Regions from separate parts of the Homo sapiens genome. Here regions 1, 2 and 4 are each reported to be linked to region 3. Evidence: microRNA targets listed by miRTarBase, many of them from high-throughput screens and not tested one by one. Region 3 holds a microRNA gene; each other region holds the end of a gene's coding sequence. Distances are between the middles of the regions.
Evidence for each region. The annotated mature microRNA hsa-miR-365b-3p reads UAAUGCCCCUAAAAAUCCUUAU and lies in region 3 at 3,092-3,113, opposite strand. An mRNA with a match to its seed (bases 2 to 7 or 8) in the 3' UTR can be bound and repressed. Matches are read on the target gene's strand: a 7mer-m8 pairs with bases 2 to 8, a 7mer-A1 pairs with bases 2 to 7 and ends in A, and an 8mer does both.

Region 1 (6,771 bases), 75 Mb from region 3:
ATGTGCACTTTTAAATGGCATAGTTTCTACTAGAAATACAAGTGAAACTATCACTGGCCGTAAGTAATTGTAAAATGACAAAAGCAAAGCTGTTCGATTCTAATAAGCTGCAGTGGCTGCTGGAGGTGAGTCCCAGGCCCACCCAGAGCAGGGCAGGGCCCCCGGGCCAGGGTGAGCCCCAGGCCAGGGTAGAGGTGGCATAGACAGCGGTTATGGGGACAGACATGTAGCACAGCTGGCGCTACCGCCACGTGTAGTAACTAGATGCCAGGAGCGGGTACAGCTGGGCCTGGCCCATACCAGGGTAGGTTCACGGCCGTATCACGCCCTTGGCCCTGCTGGCAGCTGAGGTCGGCAGAGTCTGGGGCTCTCCCTTCACTCCTCCTCCCTCCTCTCCCCGCTGTGTGTCCCGCAGACTTGCCTCCTCATGCGGCAGCAGCACGAGGCCGCGGCCCTGAACGCCGTGCAGAGGATGGAGTGGCAGCTGAAGGTGCAGGAACTGGACCCCGCCGGGCACAAGTCCCTGTGCGTGAACGAGGTGCCCTCCTTCTACGTGCCCATGGTCGACGTCAACGACGACTTTGTATTGTTGCCGGCATGACACCGCGGGACGGCCGCAGGACGCAGGCGAGGGCCGCACGGCTGCCCAGGACTGCTGCTGAGCCCCAGGGGCGGAGGAGGGAGCGCCCTGTCCACCCGGGCGGGGAGAGACCCCGAGAGAGACTGCACTTGGCCACAGCGCCTCCATCCCTTCCAGACTGGTCCAGACGTCGGGGAGGTGAAACACGTCTCTTCTCTACCAGCTGCCGCGGCGGGGGCAAAGCCCCCAGAGCCTCACTGGCCCCGGCGGGATGAGGAGACCATGCCGGGCGCGCACACACGGCAGCTTCTGTTTGAAAACGGCGACCTTCGGGCCCTTTTCTCCAGCAACTGCAGAGGCATTTCAGGAGTTGGAGAACGGAGTACATTTTTAAAATTTTTTGTTCCATTCTGATCAACTAAAGAAAATTAAGGTGTCCACCTCTCACAAACAGTGACCTGCAGGTCGGAGGGGCAGGAGCCCCATCCCAGCCGTGGTTCTGTTGCCGCCGAGCTGCGACGGCCTCAGACTGGGCTTCAGACCTGGTGCGGAGCCAGGCGGAGGGACACAGAGCCAGGACTCCCAGCCGTATTGAAATGGAGTCAAATCCGCGTGGTTTGTATCTTCTTTCCTTTAATCTTGGGCATTTTGTTTCTCTTTCTGAGAACGTAACTTGAAACACTACAGAGCCAATAATCATATAAAAAGTGTATCCGTAAACGCTGTACAGTTTTATATACCTTCACAATGTACTTTTGCTGCCTTCTAGATAATTTATTTTGCAACACATTACTGCACAGTTGTAAATAACTTATGTACTGTAACATCACTTTCAGTTATGTGTAAAGAAATAAATAAATTAATTAAAATGCTCTTTGTACAGTGCGTCCCTCCAGGAGAGGGGCTGTGTGTGGGACTGACACAGTGTCGCCCCTCTCGACGACCTTCTTACTCCCAGGACAGACGTGGTGGCTCACGCCTGTAATCCCAGCACTGTGGGAGGCCGAGGCGGGAGTCTGAGACCAGCCTGCCCAACATGGCAAAATCCCCTCTCTACTAAAAATACCAAAAATTAGCTGGGTGTGGTGGCGCGCGCCTGTAGTCCCAGCTACTCCGGAGGCTGAGGCAGGAGAATCGTTTGAACCCAGGAGGTGGAGGCTGCTGTGAGCTGAGATCACGCCACCCTACTCCACAGCAGACTCTGTCTGAAAAAAAAGAAAACCTTTTTCCTACCAAGTTGTTAGCTTTTAATTTTGAAACAAATTATCTGTTCCCCTCGTCCTCTGCCTTTGCACAGACCGGGAATGCTGTGGAATTACTGCCTCTTGTAGGAGCTGGAGAGAAACAGGAGCATCACTCCCCACGGATCTGAGCACTGCAGCCGTGGCCAGACCCCGTGGCCAGCTGTGCACGCCCCTGAGCTTCAGCTTGTGGCTGGCTGGCTTGTGCCCCTGCCCACAGTTCCCTGGCAGCTGCAGCTGGTGAGGGTCCGCGCTTTGAGAGCCCTGTCCTGGCTGGAAGGCAGCTCAGGCAAGCATGGAGATGCGAGGCCTCTGCTCAGAGGATCTTGGCACAGAGGATGCCTGCCAGGACCCTCCAGCCAGTGTGGCTCCAGGAGACTGTTGGCCCCCGGCGTGACAGGAGGGTGAGCTGATGGAGGCGCCTCACCCTTTTCCTTCTGAGCTGTCTGTCCCCTGTACCTGGGTGCTGGGGAGGGAGTGGCAGCTACAGAAACAACCCCCACAGAAGAGCAGACACTGCCCGTGCATCAGAATCAACAGGGTCCTGGTCACTGGGTCCCCTGCGGAGGAGCCCGACCTGGGAGGGTCCCTGAGCCCTGCCAGGCTGAGCCAGTGGCGGGGGCAGTGGCTTCATTCCCCCAAAGGCTGCTGTGAGCTCCCTCGCCAGCTGGGCCCCTGCGTGGGGTTGGGGGTAGGCGTGGGGCCATGCCCCCTCTCCTGTCTTCGATCTGTGAACAGAACTTTTGTGGATTCCCTCCTGTTCCCTTCAGGGCTGAGCCTGAGCAAAGGCAGGGTTGTCCACCTCATTTACGGGCTTGGGGTGGGGGTGTGGAGAAGCCAGAAGGTTCCAGTCTATTTTTCTGGGTTCGGATTAGCTGTGGTTTGTTTTGGGGGCTTCGTGGGTTTTTGGGGGTTTTTTGCTTGCTTTTGAGATGGAGTCTTGCTCTGACCCCCAGGCTGGATGGAGCACAGTGGCGCAATCTCAGCTCACTGCAGCCTCCACCTCCTGGGTTCAATTCTCCTGCCTCAGCCTCCCGAGTAGCTGGGACTACAGGCGCCTGCCACCACACCCGGCTAGTTTTTGTATTTTTAGTAGAGACGGGGTTTCACCATCTTGGCCAGGCTTTTTGTTTTCTCCACACCCCCTCAATCACAGAACTTTGGTCACAGTAAAACTTCCTTTAAGCCCTGCCTTAAAAGAAAAACCTGAGTCAGCCTGTGTCACACAGAGCACGCTGCAGTTCCAGCCCACAGTGGTGACGACGTCCCGGCCACCATGCTGTGCCTCCCTGTCTCGGGTGCCCACGAGGGGTGTCAGGCGAGAGCAGCTCCCTTCCGGCCCCCACCCTGGTCTGCTGGAGTCTCGGCTCCCGTGCACCTGCCAGAGATGCCGCACATGCGACTCCCAAACAGCCTCCTGCCATAGGGGACGAGAGACAGCCTGCCGCCCCTCAGAGAGACTTGTGAATAAACACTGAGAAACGTCAGAGTACCCAGAACCGCAGGAGCCTGCGTGCCAGCCTGGAGACCCTGCTGCCCGGGGCCACCCATGTGGGCTTCAGACCGCTCTCGGGAGTCTCTGGCTGGAGCTGGAGGAAGATGGCGTAACCCCACTCGCTCAACTACATCCATGGACCCCAGCGCTACCCAGCTCCTGCCTGGGAGCCCGGGCTCTGGAGCAGGCTGGCTCTGAGGGTCCACCACCTGTAACTCAAGCCTTCCTGATGCCTTCCCTTCCGGAGGCTCTGAGGACTGCCATTAGCAAAAAAAAAAACAAAAAACAAACAAACCCAAAGCACAGAGCAGGTGAGTGCTCGGACCCTAGGCACTTCAGGGAAGCCAGCACCCCTCCCTGGCACAGGGTCCCCCTCTCAGGGAAGCTGGCGCCCCTCCCCGACACAGGGTTCCCCCTCAGGGAAGCCGGTGCCCCTCCCCAGCCGAGGGTCCCCCTCTTAGGGAAGCTGGCACCCCTTTCTGGCACAGGGTCCCCCTCTCAGGGAAGCTGACACCTTGCCAAGGCGTAAGGCCCCAGGCTTCAACAGAAAAAGGAAAGAAATATGGCGGCTTTTGCTGCTGTAGAAGAGAAGCTGGTGGCTTTTGTAAAACCTGGAAGGAGGTGAGAGGTTTTTGTGGAAAGCCCGTGAGCCGTCAGCTCCCCGCACAGAGAGCGCCTGCTCTGCCCAGGAGACCGTGCAGCATCTGGCAAGACAGGTCTCCATTCAGGGGTCGCCATTTCCAAGCGGCAGCTGGGCCTGGGCCTGAGCCTGGCAGGAGGGGAAGGGCCCCAGCACGTGGAGCCGCACACAACCTCCACCCACCTCCCCCCACACCAGGGAGCTGCTTTCCTCCTTCCCGCTGGGGGACAGCGAAGACAGTCTCACAGGAGAGTAGAAGGAACTGGGCCCAGCTTGGCTCTGTTGGAAAGCAGAATGAAATACTGAAGCTAGAGAGAGGGACCCACAGGCAGTGAGAAGGCAGCCGTGGCATCAGCAAGAGCTCAGCTGTGGCATCAGCAAGAGCTCAGGGACGAGGTGCAAGTTGTACACCACAGCTGGGGGAGTGCAGTGGTATAAACCCCAAAAGCCCCATTACTGGGCACAGAACGTCACTCACATCTGAAATTACCTGTGATAAACTGGAAACATGGCTCACACCTGTGGTCCCAGCTGCTTGGGAGGCTGCAGCAGGAGGATCACTTGAGTCCAGGAGCTCACGGCGGTAGTGCACCGTGAGTGAGCCTGCGAACAGCCATTGCCTTCCCACCTGGGCAGCTCAGCAAGATCCTGTCTCTAAAACCAAAAATCAGGCTGGGTGTAGTATTTCACACCTATAATCACAACAGGAAGCCAAGGCAGGAGGATGCTTGAGCCCAGGAGTTCATGTCCAGCCTGGACAACATAATGAGACCCTGTCTCAACAACAACAACAAAGAACAGGCATGGTGGAGCGCGTCTGCGGTCCCAGGTACTCGGGAGGCTGAGGCGGGAGGATCGCCTGAGCCCAGGAGGCTGAGGCTGCGGTGAGCTGTGATGGTTGCTCCAGCCTGGGGGACAGAGCAAGACTCTGTCTTCAAAAAAAAAAAAAAAAAAAAGATACCAGCCGGGTGTGGTGGCTCACGCCTGTAATCCCAGCACTTTGGGAGGCTGAGGCAGGTGGATCACGAGGTCAGGAGTTCAAGACCAGCCTGGCCAACATGGAGAAACCCTGTCTGTACTAAAAATATAAAATTAGCTGGGTGTGGTGGCACAAGTCTGTAATGCCAGCTACTCAGGAGGCTGAGGCAGGAGAATCGCTTGAACCCGGGAGGCGGGGAGGGAGGTTGCAGTGAGCCGAGTTCGTGCCACTGGACTCCAGGCTGGGCCAGAAGAGCGAAACTCCGTCTCCAAAAAGAAAGAAAAAGGAAAGATACCAAGTTAAAATCGCAGCAGCCAGAGCCATTTACCCTGCAGTCAAGACCCCCACAATTAAGAAAAGGGGAAATAAATGACAATTCAAAGCAGCTACATAGAGACTGATTATGTCCCAGGTCAGAACCTCTGAGGGGGTGAGCTGATATGACAGAAAGGACGCAGGACTTCCAGGGTAGCAAGTCCCTCTGAAAATCCCTCCTCGAGAAAAGCAATGACACCACTAGGGAAAAAATTGTCAAAATTAACTTTTTCAGAACTCTGGAAATTATTAACTAAGGCTTGTAATAATTTAATGAATGTTTATTAAAGAAAAACAGCCGAGGCTTGGCATGGTGGCTCATGCCTGTAATCCCAGCACTTTGGGAGGCCGAGGTGGGTGGATCACCTGAGGTCAGGAGTTCAAGACCAGCCTGGCCAACATGGTAAAACCTCGTCTCTACTACAAATACAAACAGTAGCTGGGCATGATGGCACATGCCTGTAATCCCAACTACTTGGGAGGTTGAGGCAGGAGAATTGCTTGAACCTGGGAGGCGGAGGTTGCAGTGAGCCAAGATTGCACCAGTACACTCCAGCCTGGCTGACAGAGCAAGACTCCGTCTCCAAAAAGAAAAAGTAAAAAGAAAAACAGCTGAATATTGGTACAGAGAGCTTTGTCATTTTAACTTGCCGTGTTTCATTCTCCTTACTCCAACTCTCTGGTGCTTTGAAAACTAGCAGCCCAGAGAGGCAGGCTCAGTATGAGCCCCCAAAAGTCCCACCCCAGAGAGAGCTGTTGCCATCTTGATGGGGACAGGAGGTAGAGAAATTCTAGGCAGACAGGGGCAGGTTCCTGGTGAAGCCCCACCCTCAAGCTGAAATGCCTGAGACCATGGCCCACCTTGAGAACTGCCATCCCTGCTTTCCTGCCCTCATGTTGCCTGTTCCTAAACCACCATGGTCCCACCCTGCCCCCCGCCATCCTGTGTCTATAAAGGCCCCAGACTCAGCCAGCAGAGAGGAGAAGCAGCTGGATGTTAAGGGACAGCTTGACGGTGTCACTTCAGAGAAGAATCCATCTGCAGACACAGATGTGGCCAGACTTCAGGGGAAGATTACCTTCCCGCCCCATCCCCTTTCCAGCTCCCCTTCCTGCTGACAGCCACTTTCATCAGCAATAAAATCCCCCACATTTACCATCCTTCAATTCGTTTGCGTAACCTCATTTTTCCTGGATGCCAGACGAGCTCTAGAGCCACAGGTGGATACAAAAGGCGGTCACACCGGCCCTTTGCCTCTCACCGGCAGCCTCACGCGAAAAGGCAGAGGGTCCACTGAGCTGTTAACACTTCAGCTGTCTGTGGACGGCAGAGCTAAAGGAGCCCCGTAACACGCCCTCTGGGGCTTTGGGGGGCACAGGTACCCCGGCCCTGGATGCTGCACGGGGCCTGCACAGAGTTCACTGCTGCCGGCACCCAAAAGCACCTGCTCCAGCTCCTGCACCTGCTCACCCTCCTGCAAGGGGTGGAGCACAGAGGGTCCAAGTGAGTGGAGTTTGAAC
Region 2 (7,458 bases), not on the chromosome of region 3:
GTTAATAGGGCAAAATTTATAAGCCTGCCATCTAGAGGATGAGCTGAGGAATTGCTGGAAGGTAACAAGTGAGCACCAGGTGAGAAAGAGGGGTCAGAAATGGCCCGTTGCCCCATTGTCCTCTGTTGTGCACACAGCGGCAGCAACCTCTCATTCTTCTGCTCAGCTTAACTTTTTTTCAGCTGTATACTCTGACCTCTGCCTAATAGATAAAGATTGAAAAGCCTGAAGACCATGTTTTCTGACATATTGGTCTCAGCAGCCTGATATGTACTAACTCAAAAGAGATAATCAAAGAACAAGACTTGAAACTTGTACAGAATCTCCTGGGCATATAGTTCTTTTTCACCTTGTAGATGGGGCTTTATCAGATCTTTGAGTTCTGATTTTGATAACATCGTTCCCTCTCTCATTGTTTTCTTAGTCTCAGCTATTCATTGAAATAATTCTACCTGCTCTCCATCTCTCCAGCTAAGAAGTGTCACAGCTGTAACAGCAAAGAGGTTCTATGGTATACATGCAATATTCTATTTACCTTTGAGTCTCACATTACTATCTTTACACTAGTTAACTGCATATTCCATTTTCTAGACCTTTTTTGTTTGCTGCACTCTGTCCTGTAGATCTTTTCTATAACATGCATTATAGCATCTGAAGTGGTATGCCAGTAACATCCAAACCCTGCTGCAATTCAAAATTTTCGTTGAAATGTTCTACCCTAAAGAATTATCTGGGCTGGGCGCAGTGGCTCACGCCTGTAATCCCAGCACTTTGGGAGGCTGAGGCAGGCGGATCACCTGAGGTCAGGAGTTCGAGACCAGCCTCAACATGGAGAAACCCCGTCTCTACTTTAAAAAGTACAAAATTAGCCAGGTGTGGTGTTGCATGCCTGTAATCCCAGCTACTCGGGAGGCTGAGGCAGGAGAATTGCTTGAACCTGGGTGGTAGAGGTTGCGGTGAGCCGAGATCGCGCCATTGCACTCCAGCCTGGGCAACAAGAGCGAAACTCCGTCTCAAAAAAAAAAAAAAAAAGAATTATCTGAAGTTTGCCTTTCAGACATTTCTATATTTTTCAGAGATCTATATACATGATTTGATATTTGAGGGCTCAAGTCTCCATTTAATTTTTTTTCTTAATACTTCAGTGAACACATGAAACTTGTCTTTGTTAGCATGGATTAAAATTAGAGTCGGTTGCTTGCTTTGACAGCACATACACTAAAATTGGAATGATACAGAGAAGATGAGCATGGCCCCTTGCAAGGATGACACAGACATTCATGAAGCAATCCCTATTTTTATTGAGTTCTGGCAAAAAATAAATAAAATAAACTTAAGAGTCAGGCGAACTTAATTAGATAGTTATAAAAATGTTCGTGGGAACCTGATACTTTAGTCCTTCTGGTTTTATTTTCAAGCAAGCACCCAGCCTATGGCTGAACAAGATTTTATATACGTCATCTGAACGTATGGTCTTATCTATTAAAGGCCGACAAACAGAAGTCAGCAGTCAGAAGAGCACAAGAGCAGAGTGTCTATGGCCTGGCCAGGACACCAGGTGTACCTGTTGGCTTCTAGTTCCTCTGTCAAACAGCCAATTTAGGCCAAAGTACACACTACAGAAGTGACAGAGCCATGATTCACTCTATTTGTCATCAACTCTGGAACCTGTGGTTTTTGTCCTCTCTAGGAGCCGGCCACAATGCTGATAGCCCTGAATTGGTGGCCCTCAGTGAATGCTCTCTAGTGGCTGATAGGTGAGAGCGCAGGTAGCAAGATCTGAAGTTGAAGACCTTGTTCTGCTACTAGAGAACACCCCTGAGTAGTTTGACATCACCAGTCCAGGAAGAGGCTGGTAGTCTCAGATACATACATGTACCGTTCTTTGCTGTAAAAGCTGAGCTAGTTGACTGGCCACTTAGGCAGCCAAAGTTTATGGTAGCCGGAAGTGACCACACCATATTACCAGGGTCTGAGATTTTCATTACTTTGCATTTGTTGTTTTATCAGACCCTGAACTGGTTTATATTACAGGAGACAAAAGAAGGAAAATTCAGAAAGCAGTAGCAAATCACTTACCTATAAAAATGACAAAAATGTTTTTGGTATATTCTTTTACAGCCTAAGGAAATACATTGTAGTGTCTAATCAGGAGAGCATGCAAATAGTTACTTTTAATATGTTCTAACCCCAGCTGCCTGAATGTCACTTCAAAATTTAACACACTAATTTATTAGCTGTTTTTTAAAACCTGAGTATGTACTTTTTCAGTAAACAAATGACTTGGGCTGGACGCAGTGGCTCACACCTGTAATCCCAGCACTTTGGGATGCTGAGGCGGGCAGATCACTTGAGCTCAGGAGTCCAAGACCAGCCTAGGCAAGATAGTGAGACCTAATGTCTGTTTTATTAATAAATTACAAAGTTAAAAATAAACAAAAACAAATGACTTGTAGATGATTGCTGACCATTCTGTTTTAGATTTCTAGTGCTGCTGCTGTGTAAGCACAGCTATGAGTCATTGAGCTTAGGGCATGTAATTCTTTTGTTGAAGCCCCTTGGTTCTCAACAAGTAAATGACAGTGGTGAATGATGGGAAGTAGGTTGTTTTTTTTTTTTTTTTAATTAGTGGTCATGTGAACTGGAAATGGACATTTCAATTTTGTAAAACTTATAACTGGATTATGCAGAAACTTGCTTGTTATAAGCAAGTTACCATTGTAAAAACTAATAGGGATTTCTAACATAGTTTCTTTTATTTTTCTCATAGTGCGTAAGAGACGAGTTGAAGGAGATCACCAGTAAGTCTGCAAAGGTGTAATCTTTGGAAGACTTCAGAAGATCACCAAGGGCTCATGTTGGTGACATCATGTAAAATTTTCCTGGGTAGAAGGGAAAAGACTGGAAAAATTTTTTTAGTGACATGCATTTTTTTTTTAGTTGTTATCAAATTGTAAAATCAGTAATGTGATATTTTATATTCTGAAACATTTCTACTTTCTGCTAAAATCAATTTTAATTTAGTTTAATTGAATGATTTATGATGAATCTTGGGCAAAAAAATACAACTGTAAAAAATTTCACAGGTCATTTGTGTAGAATAATTTGAACATTGTGAGGACCAATCTTTTTTAAATCAAAAGGGATGTTGCTGGTATCAGAATTGTTATTGCTTCATTTAGACATAAAACACTTAAGTGTTTTCTTCACTCCGTGACCTGGAGAGTTTTCCATTTTTTAAAATACATGAACTTGGCAAGGGTGTGATTTTTCTTTATCAAGAGAACAAAATGCCAGAATGTTAAAACAGTTAACTCAAAATCTAGTCATCTGTGTAGGAGCTAAAGCAGGTCTCCAGGGAGAGAGGGTGGTCGTCTGTGCATTCCAGGTTACTGCACTTGTCTGATGTGACGTAGCAACACCCAGGTCTTCTTAAAACAAAGTCATCAGCTTTGCCAGGTTACATACTTTATTTAAAAGTATAGTGAGGTCGAAGTTCATTCCAGTGTTTCATTTTAATAATGTGGGCATTATTAAATTTTTGTGGAAGCTAATAGTAAAAAATAAAAGCTGTTTTCACCACCTCCCTCCCCACCCCCCAAAAAAGGCGTACAGCCAACTCTTAGTTATTTAGGGTAAGAGAAAAAAGAAAACTGTTAAACAATGAAATCAAAGATAATAAATATGATAGATTTCCAGTATGAGGCACTTGCAAAACAGTCATTTAAACTGATGGTTACTGTAAGTCAGTTGGAAGCTGGCATGTATGTAAATTACTTGGTGTTACACCATATCCGAAGAAGTTCCTATGTGCAGTGCAGAATTGCATAAACAGTATTTAATCACTGCTACAAATCTTCCAACCAAGAAGGAAAACTGCTATTCTTCATAAATCTAATTTTTAGTATATGCTTCCTTTCATCTTATACTTTTATCAATATTTATAAAAGTCATTTCTATAATAAAAGCAGTCTTTCTTGCTCAAAGTATTAAGGTGAACAATTGAATAGAGTACTGTGGTCGGGAGACTGATTTGAGACTGCAGAGCTGATGCTGGGTAGAGGGTCTGGACTTGTATTCATGTTCTGTCTCAGGGCAGCCCCTGGAGCAGGAGATGGCAGAGGCATTTACAGCTGCAGAAAACAGGGAGGAATGGAATCTGAGGTAGCCCTGGCCTCAAAATTCAGGCCTGGCTGTATCATTTACAGAGATTTTTCTGGAGGGAAAAGTCTCATTTCTGAGGAAGGCAAGGTGGCTAATCATTATTAATTTTTTTTAAACTTTTTGGGCCGGGCGCAGTGGCTCACGCCTGTAATCCCAGCACTTTTGGGAAGCCAAAGTGGGTGGATCACTTAAGGTCAGGAGTTCAAGACCAGCCTGGCCAACATGGTGAAACCCTGTCTCTACTAAAAATCAAAAAAGTAGCCGGGTGTGGTGGTGCACACCTGTAATCCCAGCTACTCAGGAGGCTGAGGCAGGAGAATTGCTTGAACCTGGGAGATGGAGATTGCAGTGAGCTGAGATCGTACCACTGCACTGCAGTCTGGGTGACAAAGCAAGACTCTGTCTCAAAAAACAAACAAACAAACAAACTTTTTGAAATTGAATTGCAATATGTCTGCTACTTTGGCTTGGGCTGGACAGTTTATCTAATAAGCAAGGCAGCTTCTTGTGTGCTATGGTAATAAGCCTTCTTAACAGGCTAAGCTTCCCTCATAAGAACTGTGGTGTTTCTCTTTTTTTTTTTTTGTTTTGGTTTGTTTTGGTTTTTTGGTTTTGTTTTGTTTTGTTTTTTAAATCAGTATCCAATGTTTTATAGGGGCCAAAGGTTAACTTTGCACTATTCCCTGTCAGTTAAAGGCCACTGATATTTTTCTAAGTTAGCAAGGCTCACTTGCTTGCTTTCTTGCCTCCCTTGCCTCCATCCCTCTCCCTTCCTACCTTCTCTATTTACCTATTTCTCTCCCTCCCTCTCTTCTCCTCTCTTTTTTTTTCCCCGCATATGCAGCTTTTTGATTGTACTTGATTTTATAGAGACTGCACAGTTCCAGCAAGATTGGGAGTCAGGCATGGAGCAGGCATCTCAGGCTACCAGAAAGAATTGGTCACCTAGACTTTCAGTCAGGCATCCTCGTTTGCATTGTCCTGTAAGTCAATTAGTTGATAAATAGTTCCCCCTTCATCCCTTAAGTTTTGTTTTTGTTTTTGTTTTTAATATAGGTAAGTGGGACTCTACCTAAAATTTTGCATCATACTTATGGGTAATATCTTTTTCATATATTATTTATCAAAGTATGAAGTTGAGTATTTTGCTTGTACCATTTCAATTCTGCATTATAGTAGTTCATTGTATAACTGAAAGAAATGATTTCTTCATAAGTGACATTAAATATGAACATTCATCCAATTGAATTTACAAAATCTTTCCAAAATTATAAGGGAGAAAAATCGGGTTTACTTCAATCTTTAAAAATCTGGCACCTCTTAGTAACTTTCAGTATTTCTAAATTGCTCTAAAATTTTATAATAAATAGATTAGGGTTTTGCAATAGTCTTAATTTTTAAGCCAAAGGTTTTCTGAGACCTTAGGTTTTGTAGTCTAACCAGCTTATGTGGTTATTTAAAAGAATATTCTTTGTGTTTTTAAATTGCTATTTTTAAAAAAGCTTTTTATTACCCATTTTATAAAATGTTATACTCATATTTGTCTGAATTTTTCCAGTATTCCTACATGAAATTGTATGTATTAAAAACTCAATATTAGTGGCAAATATTAATACTATTAAAATGGATTTTGGTGCTATATTCTTGTAGCTAAAGCCTAGTAGAATTCTCAAGAATAGGTGAAATACACTTTCAAAGTTGCCTGTCATTTAAAAGACCAAATAAGCATTTTGTATTAAATAAATTAGCAGATGGTTAGAGACTTCAAGGAGAGTTAGCTTGGTCATTTAATTGCGACTTCATGTTATTTGATTGAAATAACCCACATCCTTGCTTTGTATAAGATATTCGCTCTGGAGAAGTTACATGTAAATAGAATTCTATAAATTGTTTTCCAGTTGACCGAGTATCTGTTGTGTTTTTGTTTAAAAAGAGGATTCCATGACATAATAAAAATTATTTTAAAAAATGTTTTGGGCCGGGTGCGGTGGCTCACGCCTGTAATCCTAGCACTTTGGGAGGCCGAGGTGGGCGGATCACCTGAGGTCAGGAGTTCGAGACCAGCCTGACCAACATGGAGAAACCCTGTCTCTACTAAAAATACAAAATTAGCCAGGCGTGGTGGCACACACCTGTGATCTCAGCTACTCGGGAGGCTGAGGCAGGAGAATCACTAGAACTCGGGAGGCGGAGGTTGCAGTTAGCTGAGGTCGCGCCATTGCACTCCAGCATGGGCAACAAGAGTGAAACTCCGTCTCAAAAAAAAAAAAATTTTTTTTTTTTTATAAAATGTTACTCATATCATATTGTACGTTATATTTAACTCTTGCTGTCATTAAAATAAGATGACAACATTTATGAAGTTTTATAAAATCTTACATTTTAGGGTCTGTGTTCCCAGGGCTGCCTCACTTTTTCCCTAAAAAACTAGGAACCACTGTTAACCTCCCAGCAGATGCAAGGATCATGCTTTCTCTGGAGTCCTTAGTCACTTCCATTCTTTGCAAGTTTAGTACTGCCCAAATTTACTCATTCTACAGTGTTACTGCACTTTGAACGTATTGACCCATGTCACCCAAGAGAAGCAAACATATGGATGCACTAGAGACAACTCGGGTTGCTGCTCTCAGTTAAGGGCTATGAGTTCTTGGGGTCTAAGTATCTGTAAAATTATCCTCTCCATCAGCTCTCACTGATCATTAATGTTTCTGGATATTTCTTACCCTAAGATTTGCTTACCAACAAATCAAAGAAACGCTTCACTAATTATTTTTAAATTGAGAAAATAGTATTCAGAGGCAAAGATTTTTATATTCTTTTTTGAGACCAAGTCTCACTCTGTCATCCAGGCTGGAGTGCAGTGGTGCGATCTCAGCTCACTGCAGCTTCCACCTCCCAGATTCAAGTGATTCTCCTGCCTCAGCCTCCCAAGTAGCTGGGATTACAGGCGTCCGCCACCACGCCCGGATAACTTTTTGTATTTTTAATAGAGACGGGGTTTCACCATGTTGGCCGGGCTGTTCTCAAAGTGACCTCAGGTGATCCACTCGCCTCGGCCTCCCAAAGTGCTGGGATTACAGGCTTGAGCCACCACACTCAGCCTTATTCTTATATTTTAATTTGGTCATTCTTAGATCTACAGATTGAACATCCCTAATTGAAAACTTTTTGAGTACTAACATAGTGTTCAAAGGAAATGCTTATTGGAGCATTTAGAATTTCAGATTTTCAGATTAGGGATGCTGAACTGGTGTAATGCCCAGTATTCCAAAATCCAAAATAATTTGAAATCTG
Region 3 (7,458 bases):
ACTCTCCTGCCTCAGCCTCCCGAGTAGCTGGGACTACAGGCGTGCACCACCTCGCCTGGCTAATTTTTGTATTTTTAGTAGAGACGGGGTTTCACCGTGTTAGCCAGGATGGTCTTGATCACCTGAGCTCGTGATCCTCATGCCTCGGCCTCCCAAAGTGCTGGCATTACAGGCATGAGCCACCACGCCCGGCTCATATGCTTTTTTCTCCTATTAATCCACTTGTTGTCAGTCATTTCTTTGGTAAAAACTTTTAAAAAATAAATATAAAATAGGGACAAGGTCTCACTATGTTGCCCAGGAACATTTTGAACTCCTGAGCTCAAGTGATCCTCCCACCTCGGCCTCCCAAAGTACTAGGATTACTGGCGTGAGCCACCATGCCTGGCCTGTCAGTTATTTTTAGCAAACTTTTAGCGGGTGAAGGGGCAGCCTTCCCTTGCCTCCTATGCTATGTGTTCTGGGAGTTGACTCATGACAGACATGTATGCATGATCCCTTCCTGAGATCCTAACACCAAGTATTCAGCGTGAAATTTCCATCGTAACGTGGGATTATTTCTTTTTTTTCCTTTCTTTCTTTTTTTTTTTTTTTTTTTGAGACGGAGTCTCGCTCTGTTGCCCAGGCTGGAGTGCAGTGGCTCAATCTCCGTTCCCTGCAAGCTCCGCCTCCCGGGTTCACGCCATTCTCCTGCCTCAGCCTCCCGAGTAGCTGGGACTACAGGCGCCCGCCACCACACCCGGCTAACTTTTTTGTATTTTTAGTAGAGACGGGGTTTCACCATGTTAGCCAGGATGGTCTCGATCCCCTGACCTCGTGATCCACCCGCCTTGGCCTCCCAAAGTGCTGGGATTACAGGCGTGAGCCACCGCACCCGGCTGGATTATTTCTTTGATTCTTTTGTCTGTCTCCCCTGACTCAACTGTGAGCCCCATGCGGGCAGGGGCTGTCTGGCTCCCTGCTGTACCTCCAGCACCTGGCACCCAGCTCCGCACACAGTAGGGCCTCAGCAGCCATCTATCCAGGGAAGGAAGGGCAGAAGCAGTGTCTAGCCACAGCAATCTGACCCAGAAGCAACAATCACAGCTCTCTTGAGTTTCTAGCCTGCGTGATTTACAAGCTTGTTTTGGGCAGGACTAGGTGGCATGCACCTGTAGCCCAACCACTTTGGGAGGCCGAGGCAGGACGATCGCTTGAGCTCAGGAGTTCGAGGCTGCAGTGAGCTTTGACTGCACCGCTGCAATCCAGCCTGAGTGACAAAGAGAGACCCTGTCTCAATTAAAAAAAAAAAAAAAAAAAAAAAGGTTGTTTTGGGGGAATCTCCAACAGCTCAGGAAACCATCTCATCGGCTCCAGGCTTTTCTCACTTGAGGTCCCCGACACTGTGCAGGTGGAAAGATTTAAGGGGCTCCTGAGAGCCCAGCCCCCATCCTGGCAGGCTGCAGGGGGTGGGTGGGGGGTGCGTTCTGGCAGCAGGGCCGGCAGCTGTCTGCAGGCCTCTCAGTGCCTGCTCTAGCTGGCCAGCGGGGGCCCGCTGCCACCCCCCACCCCATGATGCAGCAGAAAGTGAAACCGCAGTTGGCCCCTGCCGGCTGGGACTGATCACCCATGGTTTCCCTGCAAAACCAGAGTCCCAGGGGGCTGGTGGGCAGCTGGCTCCCAGGTCCGGCACAGTGAGGCCTGTCAGGCAAGTGCCCCTAGAGGCCAAGGGAGGTGCCCTGGCCAGAAAGGAGGGTGCTGAGTCATCGTGACCCTAAAATGAGAGAGAAATCTGAGCTATGGATCAATGCAGGAGTGGGGGGGTGAGGGGTCCCAGTGGTGTCGGTGAGCAGGGAAGGGTGGTTTCCCGACCCCCAAAAGGAAGATGTGTGACACCCAGTTTTGTCATGCTGGAGCCCTCTACAGATCTGAACTGGCAACTCCCCCATCTCCCCCCACCCCTCCCCACACCGACTACAGGAGTGCGGAAAATCCCTGAGATAAACAAGAATTCTCTAAAAGTGGACCTCTGAAACTTTACACACGACTTTCTGATTTCTGTCCCATCCTCAGGGCAGCTGTAGTTGCTTAATATTTTTCTTCCAAAACACCCACTCTTTTTTGTTTAACTGACATCAATTGATGGACAAAAAAAGGGCCCCTGTCTCCCGACCCTAAATGGAAAACCAACCAATTGCCTGAAGTACAAATCAGCGGTGCAAAGAATACCTACTAGAATAATTTTCACCTTTAGCCGGCGCCGCTTAAAATCAGAGATGTGCAAATCAGACTTGGGAGTCTGAGTTACAGGTTTCATGCCTGAGGAGCTGGTGGCTCAGAGAGACTGACTCACTTGTCCCGGGTGACACAGCAAGAGAGGCGCAGAGCTCGGGCTGGAATGCAGGCCTGGCTGATCCCAGAAACCCAGGCTCAGTGCTGGGCTGCCGTCTCCCCACCCATGAATTCCTCTGTGTGTATTCATATTATTACCTTCCATGTTTAATGCATGGACTCTCCAATTTTCAAAGCACCTTCAGAGCTTATACAACGTTAGAGCTTTTTATATATAACATTGGCTACATCCAAGAACCCTTTGAAGCCAGAGCAGGGGGTGCTGCCCCTCCCTTGGTGTATGGGGAAACTGAGGCAGCGAGCGGGGAAAGTGTTCTGTCTCAGGGAGCTAGCAGGAAAGCCAGGACTGCCCCAGGGCCCCCTGCCAAGGCGATGATCCCGGAGGCCCTGGCTGCAAGGACCAGGCCTCGTCAAACAGGTAACACTTGTTTCTTTCCGCTTTCCCTACCTCCCCCTACAACCCCCCAGAGCAAATGCTGACGCTGATGGGGAGCCACAGCTGTACTCCTTCCCAGGCCGGATCTCAGCGTCTGCCCCTGGAGGGCAAAAGCACGTTTAGCAACCAGTGTCTGCGCATGGCGTCTTTCAATTTTTCACAGTGATAACCGGTTTTGAGCACAAGAAGGCATCTACCAGGGACCCAGAAGGCGCTACAGCGGAAGAGTTTGGGGAACAGCTTTCTCTCTTCTTTGAGTTGCTGGAGGAACTCCGAGCTGATGTCTTTCTGGCCCAGGGACCCCCGAGGAATACTGCAAGAGCAATAAGGATTTTTAGGGGCATTATGATAGTGGAATGGAAACACATCTGCCCCCAAAAGTCCCTCATTTTCCCTGCGGTAACGAACCAGCTGGCAGGAAGTGGTAGCTCTCAGAGCACCAAGAGCCAAAACTAAAAAGGAAAAAATGTACAAAGTTAGAGCAAACTTTAAACAAGTGAGCGCTTTCATGGTGTACGGCGGCTCCGTGCAGACTCACGAAAGGGACCTCATCTTCTCAATAATTGGCTAAATAGGTCTCAGTGCAGCAGCTTCCACACAGACGTGCTCAGAAAACCACAGATCTGGAATCCCAGAGCAGGTTCCCAAAATGGATACAAGGATTATTCCCTAAAGCCAGGCGCATCATAGGAGACGTGACGTTTCCCCCAAACTTCAGATGACTGTTCCAGACCCTCATTAATGATCTAAGTTATCCTTCAACACCTCCTCCTCTGGAATGGGAGAAACTTAGTCCCCTTGGAAATGCTGATGAAAATACCTGGTTTCCACAACACGGACAGAAGGACTAAGGCTTGGGTAGGGGAGCTGAGTGGTTATCGCTGGTGGTGCAAAAGGGGCAAACCGGCTGGCGTGGGGGCTCACGCCTGTAATCCCTGCACTTTGGGAGGCCAAAGTGGGAGGACTGCTTGAGGCCAGGAGTTTGAGAACAGCCTGGGCAACACAGTGAGACCCCCCCCAAGTCTCTGCAAAAAATAGCCAGGTGTGGTGGTGTGTGCTTGTAGTCCCAGCTACTCAGGAGGATGAGGCTTGAGCCTAGGAAGTTCAGGCTGCAGTGAGCTGTGCTCACCACTGCACTCCAGCCTGGGCAACAGAGTAAGACACTGTCTCAAAAAAAAGGGGACGGGTTTTACTGCTAAGGTCCCAGGTGCCATCTCTTGGTTCAGCCACTAAGATCTGAGGACTAAGGAGTTCAGGGTGTCTTCCCCAAGGCATATAACCTTTGAGGCCCTGCAGGTGGGTGCCCCCTGTGCCAGCCAGCACCCTCAGAGCCAGGAAAGGGTTAACCCCTCCACATGGCTGACACCAGAGGAGGAGCTTACTACGCAGCCTGGGATATCACACTGGGCCATCTCAGAGAGGAGAGGCCTCTGTGAGTTCTGTGAATGGAAGTGGATTCACTGCCTTCAGATTGAGAACGGGGTGAAAAGGCATCCCCACACAGAACCGACGCCCCAGTCGCTAGCTGGCTCCTTGGCACCCGTCGCATGGCCCCGAAGCTCTGGCAGGGACTCTGGGCACCTGTACCAGTGAGCACCCGGCCATCTCGGCCAGGTCTGTGAGGGAGCGATTCTACCCTTGCCATGTGACAGCCGGCAACTAGGGCCCAGATCTCTTCTTTCAAGTAGCACCTAAAATATTCTCCGGGTGAACCTAGGGCTAAATACGGCATGGCCTACAGGTGCCGGGTCTGGACCTTTTAACGCCATTCTAAGATACGATCGAGAACCCACGAGGCCTTTGGTAGCCTGGAGTCCAGTTACTGGGGCCAAATGGGAGTCCCACGGGTTTGGCTGACTCAGGGCTGGGTGCAACTTCCTGGAGCAGGCACATGTTGGTGCCAGGGCAGAGAGGCTGCAGACAGTTTTCTTGTGTGTTTGAACCCAGAATGCCAGCCCAGTTCTCACTCTGGGCCGACCCCCAAGGTGGCTTAGTTGGTGGCCCCTTTTTCTGTCCACCTGGCCCACTTCTTTCCACTTCCAGCCTGCAGCCCGGCCCTTCCTGGCCTAGGTTTTCCTCCCAGCCTGATCAAAGCAAAAGGCTCAGCTCCCAGGTGGGAGGCCTCACGGAGCTGGAGAAGAGACCAGCAAACACATGCACGGTAACTCAGATGTGTTATGTGTTGTCTTGCTGGCTGGGAGCTACGCCTCCTAGGCCCACCCCAAGTCGAAGGATCGCAGCCCTGGTGCTCGAGAGCAAGGGCTTGGGGCTGGGCTGCAAAAGCTCAGCTTTGCCTCTGAATCTTCTAGAACCACGTTTGCACTCACACAGGACAGATTTGCTCTGAGCCTGTGGGATAGCCTCATCTGTTCCCCTTTGAGCATTTGGAAAGCAAAGTGGGGTTCTGCCCTCGCCAGAGCCCACAGGGTCACCAGGCTATTAAACCCTGCAGAGTCTCTGGGGAGGCTGACTTTGAGAGCCAAATACCCCATCTTCTGGCTGAACTGCTGCAGGCTTCGTCTCGGGAGGAAAGACCCCCAGGCACCTGTCTGGACTTGTCTGGGCACCAGTAGTGGCTCTGAGGCCACATCTGGGCCTCGGCTGGCAGAGGTCTGGGCTGTCTTGGGCACAAATGCCAATGCCAACAGGCCCAGCACTGATCTCACACGATTCCAGCAAGAGAGCCTAGATTTTTGCACATCTCTGAGAAAACTGTCATACCACACCGCACAGCTAACCTTAGGCGCAACCAGCCACTAACTCCTCTCCCTGCCCAGGCGAAGTCCCCTTTGCTGCAGTGGGGCAGCATTTCAGGGACACGGAGAAAGAAGTTTGCTTTGTGGTTCCGTAAACTCAGACGGATGATATAAAATCAGAAACCTTATTTTAAAGCTTGGTAAATATGTGCATATGTCCCCTACAACTGGGGACGCTGGAAAGGCAGCATCTGAACACTGGCTGCTTTGAAAAGAGGTCATGAGAAGGGCAGAAGGGGTCAGCTGGGCATGGGGTGATGGAGGGAACCCCAAGTCCACTCCTAAATTCTTTCAACGTCCATCTCTTTCCCTGAAAAGTCGGCTTGGCTACTAGGCCTGAAAAGTATGTTGTTTATATCATGTTTGTGAGCGTCAGGGTTTATTTTCACCTGCTCCAGATACAAGAAGCAAAAAGAACTCTACATTTTTCTGTGTTTGGGGTGCTCAGGCGAGAAAGAAAATGCCTGCTTAAAGTAACTGATCAGCAATGTTTTGTTTGTACACGCACTTTATTCTGGTGAGTGATTTTAAGTACCAAGTTTGCCTTAACTTTTCACTGCACTCATTTTTATCCTCATGGCTAAAATAGCTGTATTTGCTCCACAATCAAAATTAAAGGAGGGTGAGCTGATCGTTAGGAGGCTATAGTTGATCTGGCAAGAATTTCCATCTTTCTGTTCATAACGTTAAGTTGGGGGGTTGCTGGGAAGGGAAACAGAGAGAGTGTTCCCTTGGAGGGACTTTTCCAACTTTCATTGGTTTGAATCACCAACATATATTTTATTTTTAAGGAAGTATCATATTCATTGCAGAACCACCTCTAAATATTTTACTCCTGGCCATACCGTATTCTTTTCTATTGAAACATCTTTTTTGCCTCTCTGAGATCAGCTATGGCTTGGGGATTGCTAAGAACAAAATTCAAAGTTGCTTGTTTTTTGTTTTTTTTTTTCTTAAATCCACACTTCTTTGGGGGTTAGCGGGGGTGGGGAGGGAACAGCAACTGCTTAATGAAGTTTCTCACACAGAGGCAAAAAGAGAAAAGCCAAAATATATTCAGTGTATCCAGCAGTTCCATGCTGAATTTTTTTTTTCCTTATTGGTTGAGGGGGGTGTGTAGGAGGGTGGTGGGAAGGATCTGAAAAGAAGCTGTGATTCTTTGCTGAATTAATGATGACTTCTCACTGCAAAATGCTGATTTATAATCTCTTCACCATACTAGACTGTTTCCAGACTCAGAGGGGGGTTAAAGTTTGTTAAATGTATTCATAATTACATGCACAGTTTCAGACGGCTGAATATAAGTAATGCTTGTGCTGTTGCGAATGCTCACCATTAAAGCAGAAATTGTTTCACATTTAGCACTAAATTCTGTCTGATTTTGCACACTTAACAATTCAGTAATTTTAACATTCGGCTTCGTCGCCTCCATTATAGCTCAGTATCTTGGAGAAACAGTCAGTGTTCCGGCCTCGTTAATTCATGTAAAACACCCTATTTGTAGAAGTATCATTAAAGGCTAATTTGATGAGATATCCTTATTTAGCAAAGCAAATAGGATTTGACAGTCAGCTCCGGGTGGCGATTTAGCAAAGCACAAACACAATTCACAACGTGACAATTTCCCATCCACGCGCCTCGCTGGAATTGTGGACTCCTGAAAATTGTGCTGTTTCATCGTGTCCCATACTAAAGAGAAAGAACTCTGGAAGTAAAGAACTGTTTTTGCCAAGGCAGCACAAATGTCATCTGTGTGTACATGTGCCATGTCTTTCAAATCCTAAATCTTGTATCAAGAACGCTGTGTTCAAAGGTTTTTTCCAGGTACAGCTCACTTTTCTATTCCCTGCTATGTAGACTTAATTTAAATCTAGACTTGCAAATAACTTAGGATGTGTGAAAGTCTATATAGGTTACAACTATATAGGGTGTGTG
Region 4 (7,458 bases), not on the chromosome of region 3:
CCTGCACAAGGCCAAGCTTGGGCCAGTGTTCCAGTCCCCACAGTAGGGACACAGGATCTGCTCTGAAAAGAAAGGAGGTGCCGGGGAAGTCCTCATGGCCTGCTCTGTCTGGCCCTGTCTTCTGTCCCTCCCTCTAGGGTCCCTCCATCTGGGCTCCATGTGCCTGCTGCACCCACAAAGGCCCTGCCCTGCCTGCCACCCTGGGAAGGTGTTCTGGACATGTTCTCCATCAAGCGGTTCCGGGCCAGGGCCCAGCTGGTCTCGGGACACAGCTGTCGGCTTGTCCAGGTGCACCTGCCCTCCTCGCCAGGGATTCCCTTACACACTGACCAGCCCAGGCAGCCTCTCTCTCTCTCTCTCTTTCACTCATGCATTCTAAAACAATTCATGGGCACCCCTTTCTGTGCCTGGCCCTGTGCAGGGCATGGGGGCAAATGAGATGTTGGTCCCATTCCTACAGAGACAAACAGGGTGAAGGACTCCCTGTCACCCATAGCAAGAAGGGCCCAAAGGAGGGTTTTAGGAGTGATCGTTGAGTGACTTAATGATCAGCTAAAGTGTCGGATGAGAGCAGAGGATAGAGGAGGGAGGGAGGGGCTTTGGAGAAGTTGTAGATTAGCCAGTACAGGCTGCAGACCTCCATGGGGCAATTAGAGCTTTCTGGGCAGCCACTGAGGGTCCTGGAACACTGCCTGCCCATATTTGCCACAGGCTGCAGCCTTCCAGGTGGCTGGGAATGCGTCCACCCTGAGTGGGTGGGAAGCTGGGGAGCTGACTGGCCATCCTTCCTGCCCCTAGGCTCTGCCCACCGTGATCCGCTCGGCAGGCTGCATCCCCTCCAACATTGTCTGGGACCTTCTGGCCAGCATCTGCCCAGCCAAGGCCAAGGTACCTGCCCACTCTTGGGCACCCCCTCTTTTCCTAGTACCTTACTCCCACCTCCCTCTCCACTTCTAGAGCAGAGGCCTGGCTTGGATATCTGGGTCTAGTTCCCAGAGTGACTGCAGACTCACTGTGTGACCCTGGACAGGTCCCTCTGTTTCCTCCTCTGGAAGATGGAGACATACTTTCTCACGGGGTTCTCAGGGGTTTCAGGGAGCCCAGGGGTGTTGGCAGGAGCAGAGGATGACTGCGCTTACAGCTGCTCTCCTCCTGCCACCGCAGGACGTCTGCGTGGTCAGACTGTGCCCACATGGGGCCCGGGACACCCAGAACTGCCGCCTGCTCTACTCATACCTCAATGATAGGCAGCGCCACGGGCTGGCCTCTGTGGAGCACATGGGGATGGTCCTGCTGCCCCTGCCTGCCTTCCAGCCCCTGCCCACCAGGCTGCGCCCTTTGGGGGGCCCAGGTGAGTGCCTAGTCCCCATACCAGACCCTGCCTCTGCTCACTTGGTGACCAGACCAGGCACGGTTGACACAGTCACCCAGTAGAGGCAGGCACATCTCAGAAGGGAACTCCTCACCCAGCCAGGCAAATGTGAGTACAATGACAGTAATAGCTCACGCTTGGATATCATGAACTGCATGCCAGCCATTGTTCTAAAAGCTTTACCTAGATGAATTCTTGTAGTCTCATCACCCTATGAGAATGGTACTATTAGACTAGACTGTCCATCTCATAGAAGAAGAATCTGAGGGAGGAAGAAGGCAAATGACTTGTCCAAAGTCACACAGTCAGTCAACAGCAGAACTGGGCTTCACTCTGTTCACACGTTGTGTGAAGCACAACATGGCTTCAGAAACCTGGCCCCTAACCACCACACCACACTGCCTCTCAAGGTAGGCACCCCTGAAGAGAAACTCCAGGGACAGCCACATTTGACCCAGGCAGCAGGACAGAGTCAGGACCTACACACACTTGACTGTAAATGTCACCTCAGAGAGGAGGGAGGGATGTTTCGCCACAGCCACGGGGGGCCGAGCTCGGCCTCTGTGCATGGACACCCTCCACGGCGTGGCTCAGGAAAGCAGCGAGGTTGGCAGTGGGCGCTTTGCCCACTCCTGAGCAAAGCGCTTGGCCTTTTGGGGCTCCATGTCCTGAGACAATGAGGTAGACTTTGAGTCTGTAGAGTCTTCAGGTCAAACAATCCATACCCCAGCCTCAGCCAGATAAGCCTTGATCCCGCAGAGCTCAAATCTTCCGAGACAGCCCCACCTTCCTACTTACTTTTCCCAGCATCTCATGGGCCCCATCTCACTGTGAAGAAGCCCTTCCTGGGATGTAGGCTCCAGATCTGCTGCAGCTAAGCTGAACACAGTTCTTCCCCGCAGGCCTTTGGGCTCTTCCTGTCTCCCCTCTCCTTTCCCCAGGTCTGGAGGTCACTCACTCAAGTCTGTTGCTGGCTGTGCTGCTCCCCAAGGAAGGGCTTCCAGACACAGCAGGGTCCAGCCCCTGGTTGGGGAAGGTTCAAAAGATGGTCTCCTTCAACAGTAAGGTGGAGAAGAGATACTATCAGCCAGATGACAGGAGGCCGAATGTGCCCCTGAAGGGCACCCCTCCCCCAGGAGGTGCCTGGCAGCAGAGCCAGGGCAGGGGCAGTATAGCTCCAAGGGGAATCTCTGCTTGGCAGAGGCCCCCCAGAGGCAGGGGGAGGCTCTGGCCAGAGCCTGAAAACTGGCAGCATCCTGGGCGAGGGCAGTGGCCCCCAGAGCCAGGCTTGCGCCAGTCCCAGCATCCCTATTCAGTAGCACCAGCTGGTCATGGCTTTGGCCGTGGCCAGCACTTCCACAGGGACTCCTGTCCCCACCAAGCCCTGCTCCGGCACCTCGAATCCCTGGCGACCATGAGTCACCAGCTCCAAGCCTTACTGTGCCCCCAGACCAAGAGCTCCATCCCCCGCCCTCTGCAGCGTTTGTCTAGCGCCCTTGCAGCTCCAGAGCCCCCTGGCCCAGCCCGTGACTCCTCTTTGGGGCCTACAGATGAAGCTGGCTCTGAGTGTCCCTTCCCTAGAAAGGCCTGACCCTCCTTACCCACCAGAACAGGGGTTTTGATGCCCTCACTAGTGTTGAAGCCTGTTCCAGAGAGAGGTGGGACTGCAAGGAGAGGATGGTCAGCCCTACCCACCTGCCCTGTTTGAACTTCCTGTTTGACAATGTTTGCTGTTGATTTTTTGTTCAATAAAGAATTTGGTAAAATTGGGATTGCATCTGCTAGCTGGTCAGGAGAGCCCCTGGTCCTGGTCAGATGTGGGTTGAGTGGGTGTGTCAGTGAGTGTCTTGTGCACAAATGTGCAGCCTTGCTCATTGCTGGTCTGAGGTCCTGAACCATCACTGCGCCCCAGGGCACAGCTATTGCCACGGTGGTTTCTGGAAGCATTTTGCAAGTATTCTGAACCAGGAGGAAGAGGTGGTGGTGGGAAAGAAAGTAGGACCGAGGTTGGGGGTGGAGAGAGAAATGGACAGAGCCTTTTGGAGGGTCACAGACATCAGACATCAAGAGATTGCTAGAGAGGAAAAGATAAGCAAGTTGCAGTGGACTTTAAATTTTTCAGTTAATACTAAGATTTTTTTTTCCTTTGACTAGATGGGGAAGGATAGTACATACCTTCACCATATTCCCTCCGAGTCTCTGTCTATGTGCTTCTCAGGGATCTCTGTGCACTAGTGTGCCTGCAAGCATGTGAGAGTATCTGTGTGAGTTTCATGGCCTGCCTGTGTGTAGGTCTCTGTTGAGGAAGTCAGGAGATCCAGATTGGGTGACTCCTCTCTGTATCTCTTGCCAGATTCCAGAGACTGGTGTTAGAAAATGTCAAAGGTCTTAGCCTTGGTGGTGGGCATTCAGGGTGGGGTTGGAGACTGGTATTAGGGTTGGACGGTGCTGCCTTGCCTTGGGCCTAGAACAAGCTTCTAACAGCAACTGCAACTGTCAAGCGTTTCATGTGGGGTGTACCTCGAGAGAGCTGCATCTGCGGACTGATGGGGGAACCAGCTGCCAGGGCCAACCAACCCAGCGTGGGGAAAGGGGCCTGGCTTCCAGGAGAGAACCTCTCTAGAACCCCACCCTTCGCCCCGGGGCCAGAAGGGCCCTACCCGCTCTTTGCTCACCCCTTCGCAAAGTCCACCCATGTACAGGCCTCACCCTGGCCCCTGCTGGACTGGAAGGGGTGGGGCGATGGTCGGTTGGGGGAGCCCTTCTTCTCTGCCCCATGAGCTCTGCGGCTGCCCTACCCGCGGACGACAGCAGAGGGGGCCCTCGGCCTTGGGATGGAGGTCGGGGCTGGCAGGACCGGAGTCAAAGCGGGGGGTGGGGCGAGGTGCGGGAACTTAGCGCAAGGAGTTGGAAGCGGGGGCGGGGTAGGATGCGGGTGGGGTGCGGGTGAGGGGTAGGGAGAGGGGGCTGGACAGTTGAACCGGGAGAGGGAGCGGGGCTCCTTCGGGAACTTTTCCGGCTCGAAATGGCCTGGGAGCGCCGCAGCCTCCGCGCTCTATGCAAATGACGCAAATTACTATGCAAACCTACAGCTTGGTTCTGAGCCCACAGTTTGGGTGGTTTTCCTAATGCAGTTGGTATGGAGGGAAACGGGTGTGCACTCCCTCCCCTCCAGGTCCAGGGCTTCCTCCGGAGAGCCGCCAGAGCCGCTCTCCTGGAACACGCAGGCAAGAGCGAGCTCTGTACCCTGGGCAGGGATTTCCTTTGGGAGCTTCAGTTTTCCCTTCTGTAAATGGGGGTGATAACGCGGCTCTGTAACAGCTCGCCCGTGGAAGGGCTGTAGGTGGGCCCCGAAATCCTGCAGCCTGCTAAACATGACACCCTCCCCCACCCCCGCCACCTTTTGGCCCCAGTCCACGAGCCCCTTGCCCCTCTCTCTCTCGGCAGAAGCCTGGAGCGAGGATTAGGCATGACGTTGCTAGGGGGCGTGACTGACGGTTGCTAGGCTCCAGGGACGTTGCTATGCAACGCTGGGCGGGGCTTGTTGTTGCTAGGCCGGAGCCGGAATCGCCCGGGACCCGGAAGGGACACCTCGCGCCCTGGGTTTTAGTGGAAGGCGCCCCAGGCTACCAGGGATCGCGACACTGCTCTCCCGGTGACTTTCTTCGGGCCTGAGCTTCCCCCGGCTGGACGCAGTTTCTGAGGGTCCTTCCGGTTCACACTCTGCCACTCCGTGATCCTCTTGGCTCCGGAGTGAAGAACCCTGCGTCTTTGTGCACGTGTCTGTGCGCCTGCCTGTGAGGGGGGTGGGGGTGCAGAGCGGGTATCGCTTTTGGATTTCCATAGCAACTGCTCCTGTGTCACCCCATTGCTCCCAAAGGTTTGAGCGGTTGCTTGTACAAATTTACATATATCTGCATGTCATTAACATAGAGGCGGGGCCGGAACTTGTTTGGGCAACTATCCCTGGACGGTTCTCTTTGCTTCTTCCTCATCCCGTCTGATAGGCATGTGGGCTGCGCATGCGTGAGTGTTTAGCCTGTCCATGTTCTCAGATGTGGGGTGGATGAGTGAGCTGTGACAGTGACCATCAGTTCCCTTTCCCCACGTCCCCTTATTGAACCCTTAGCATGAATCCATCCAGATATCCCTGACTGAAGACACCCAGCTTCCCAAGCAATGCCAGGCCTTGTTGGCACTCCAATTCCTTTTCTGGCTGTGTGGCCTTGACAAGTTTAGTTACCCTCTCTGTGGCTCAGTTTTCTTCTCTGTAAACAGGGATACTAATCTCTAACTTACCAGGTGATGGGAGGGTTTAACTGGTTGCCACTTTTACACACACTAATTGCTGCTTTCTGGCCTACAGTAGGCACTCAGTGGTGCTCCCTTCCTCCCTCCCTGGAGCCCAACTCTTCTCAGAACCCAACCAAAGCAAATCAACTTCAGTTGCCGCTTAAGACATGACAACTAGACACCAGAAGAACTTCCAGATGTCAGGGCAGACTGGATTTGATGCACAGGATGAGGACTATTGTTTTCTCTATTTGTCCTTCTTGGAAGCTGGAGGTCAGGTTGGTGAGTGTGGACCCTCCTACCGCCTCCCCCTTATACCCTTGTCTCTCTCAGGGAGCCCACTGGTTTCCAGAAAACTTGCTTTCTTGTCCCAAAGGCCTGGAGCCTGAGACGGCTGTAGCAGTGACAGCTGAGCTTGGGAGGCCCGAAGACCAGGGCAGAGCAGGTGGTGGCTAAGGAAGTACCTTCCAGGACTGAGGTGTTTGGGATGGAGCAGGACTGGGATGGAAGGGAGACTGAGAGCAGAAACTGCTTGGAGAGCCACATGTCTGTTCCTTTACCAGAGAGGACTGGGGAACCCTGGGGCCACCCCCTTGCCCTTTCTGAGCCTCAGTTTCCCTGTTGTAGGCAGTAAGGACTCCTCTGTTTCAACTTGTGTGGGGGGTAATAAGTCAGCTCAGTATGGAGAACCTTCTCGTTGCTGCAGCTATGTAACAGTGCCATGGAGGGAGTTCCCTGTTCTTTGCACTGTGCAAGCAGAAGCCGAGAGGGACCCCTTAAGTGTGCTGGATAGGAGCAGCAGAATTCCTGGAGGCTCTTGTTCATTTAAAAACTGGGGTTGGCTCCTATCCTGTGTGGAGGAAGATTGTTGGTGATGGACAGGGATGTAAGAACTGGGTTCCAAGGGGTTGAGTGGCTTCCTGGAGGAGGTAGGACTGCATGGAGACCATACTCTGCAGTTGTCACTCTGACTGCTGTATGCAAGACTGCTGTCTGCTGGTGGATGGCGGTGGGCCAGCCAACTGTGCTCCACAGGTGAGGGTTCCAGGGACAGGCTGTGAGCCTGGCAGTGTCCGGCTGGCCCGCCTGTGTCCCACTCTGGGGGCCAATTAAGTCTCCATCCCTAGTCGCGCCGATTAACAGTTAATAAGGCAGCAAACACCTGCAGCTATGGAGGCGAATTAAGAGCAACAGTCGGCATAATACACAACCCGATAAGTGAGCAATTAACAACCGGAGAAAGATTAATAGAAGCAATTACGTTCCTACTCGGAGCTCTGTAAATACAACTGTCAATGGCCAGGGTATTCAGTTCAGTCCTGCCTGGCCCCACCCCGGGCCACAGCCTCTGTTGGCAGGGGTGCCCACTGAGCCAGACTGTGGATCCTGGACCGCAGAGGCATGTACACAGGCACAGATATGCAAATGCACACAGAGATATACACATCCAGACATACTTAGAGAGGTGGCCCACAGAATGCAGTCATATAGATATAAAAATTCCCCACTGTCTCACATACTCGCATTCACAGACGGGTACACACAGACACACATAGGGCCTTCCAGAAGCATACACAGAGATACACAGAAAAATACCCACAGTGTCATAAAGATACATTTTCACAGAGCTAGAGCCACACAGACTACCAGTGACACTCACATATACAAACAGACGTGTAGACACACACAGATTTTTACTCATAGGGTCACATATGCATGCAACCCTCCTGTGATGCCCTTCAGAGGGTTGTCCATAGTGGGTGAGGGCGGCAGCAGGGCCCTGGACTGAGAGA

Region 1: miRTarBase lists ANKRD11 as a target of hsa-miR-365b-3p. Seed matches in the 3' UTR shown: 7mer-m8 at 1,222-1,228.
Region 2: miRTarBase lists TMOD3 as a target of hsa-miR-365b-3p. Seed matches in the 3' UTR shown: 8mer at 3,526-3,533.
Region 4: the mRNA of SPOCD1 is a reported target of hsa-miR-365b-3p. The part of its 3' UTR that is shown has no 7-base or 8-base seed match.

What each region holds. Positions count from the first base shown.
Region 1 is chr16:89,262,308-89,269,078 of GRCh38, reverse strand. It overlaps ANKRD11 (ankyrin repeat domain containing 11), which reads left to right. Exons shown (of 13, transcript NM_013275.6): 13 at 416-1,449. The coding sequence ends at 601. Among named protein-coding and RNA genes, the nearest start is that of ZNF778, 48 kb to the right of the region's middle.
Region 2 is chr15:51,906,006-51,913,463 of GRCh38, forward strand. It overlaps TMOD3 (tropomodulin 3), which reads left to right. Exons shown (of 10, transcript NM_014547.5): 10 at 2,771-7,458. The coding sequence ends at 2,805. It also overlaps the pseudogene RNU6-90P. Among named protein-coding and RNA genes, the nearest start is that of LEO1, 62 kb to the right of the region's middle. RefSeq lists an enhancer at 2,353-2,522.
Region 3 is chr16:14,304,995-14,312,452 of GRCh38, reverse strand. It overlaps MIR365A (microRNA 365a), which reads right to left and starts at 3,168; the gene lies at 3,082-3,168. All of the region lies in intron 1 of MIR193BHG (MIR193b-365a host gene), which reads right to left. RefSeq lists enhancers at 1,676-1,795, 1,587-1,881, 3,768-3,817, 4,613-5,297, 5,298-5,983 and 1 more and a silencer at 1,707-2,001.
Region 4 is chr1:31,786,108-31,793,565 of GRCh38, reverse strand. It overlaps SPOCD1 (SPOC domain containing 1), which reads left to right. Exons shown (of 16, transcript NM_144569.7): 13 at 138-288; 14 at 799-888; 15 at 1,165-1,351; 16 at 2,275-3,144. The coding sequence ends at 2,963. Among named protein-coding and RNA genes, the nearest start is that of ADGRB2, 25 kb to the right of the region's middle. RefSeq lists silencers at 4,174-4,463, 4,794-4,843 and an enhancer at 4,629-5,404.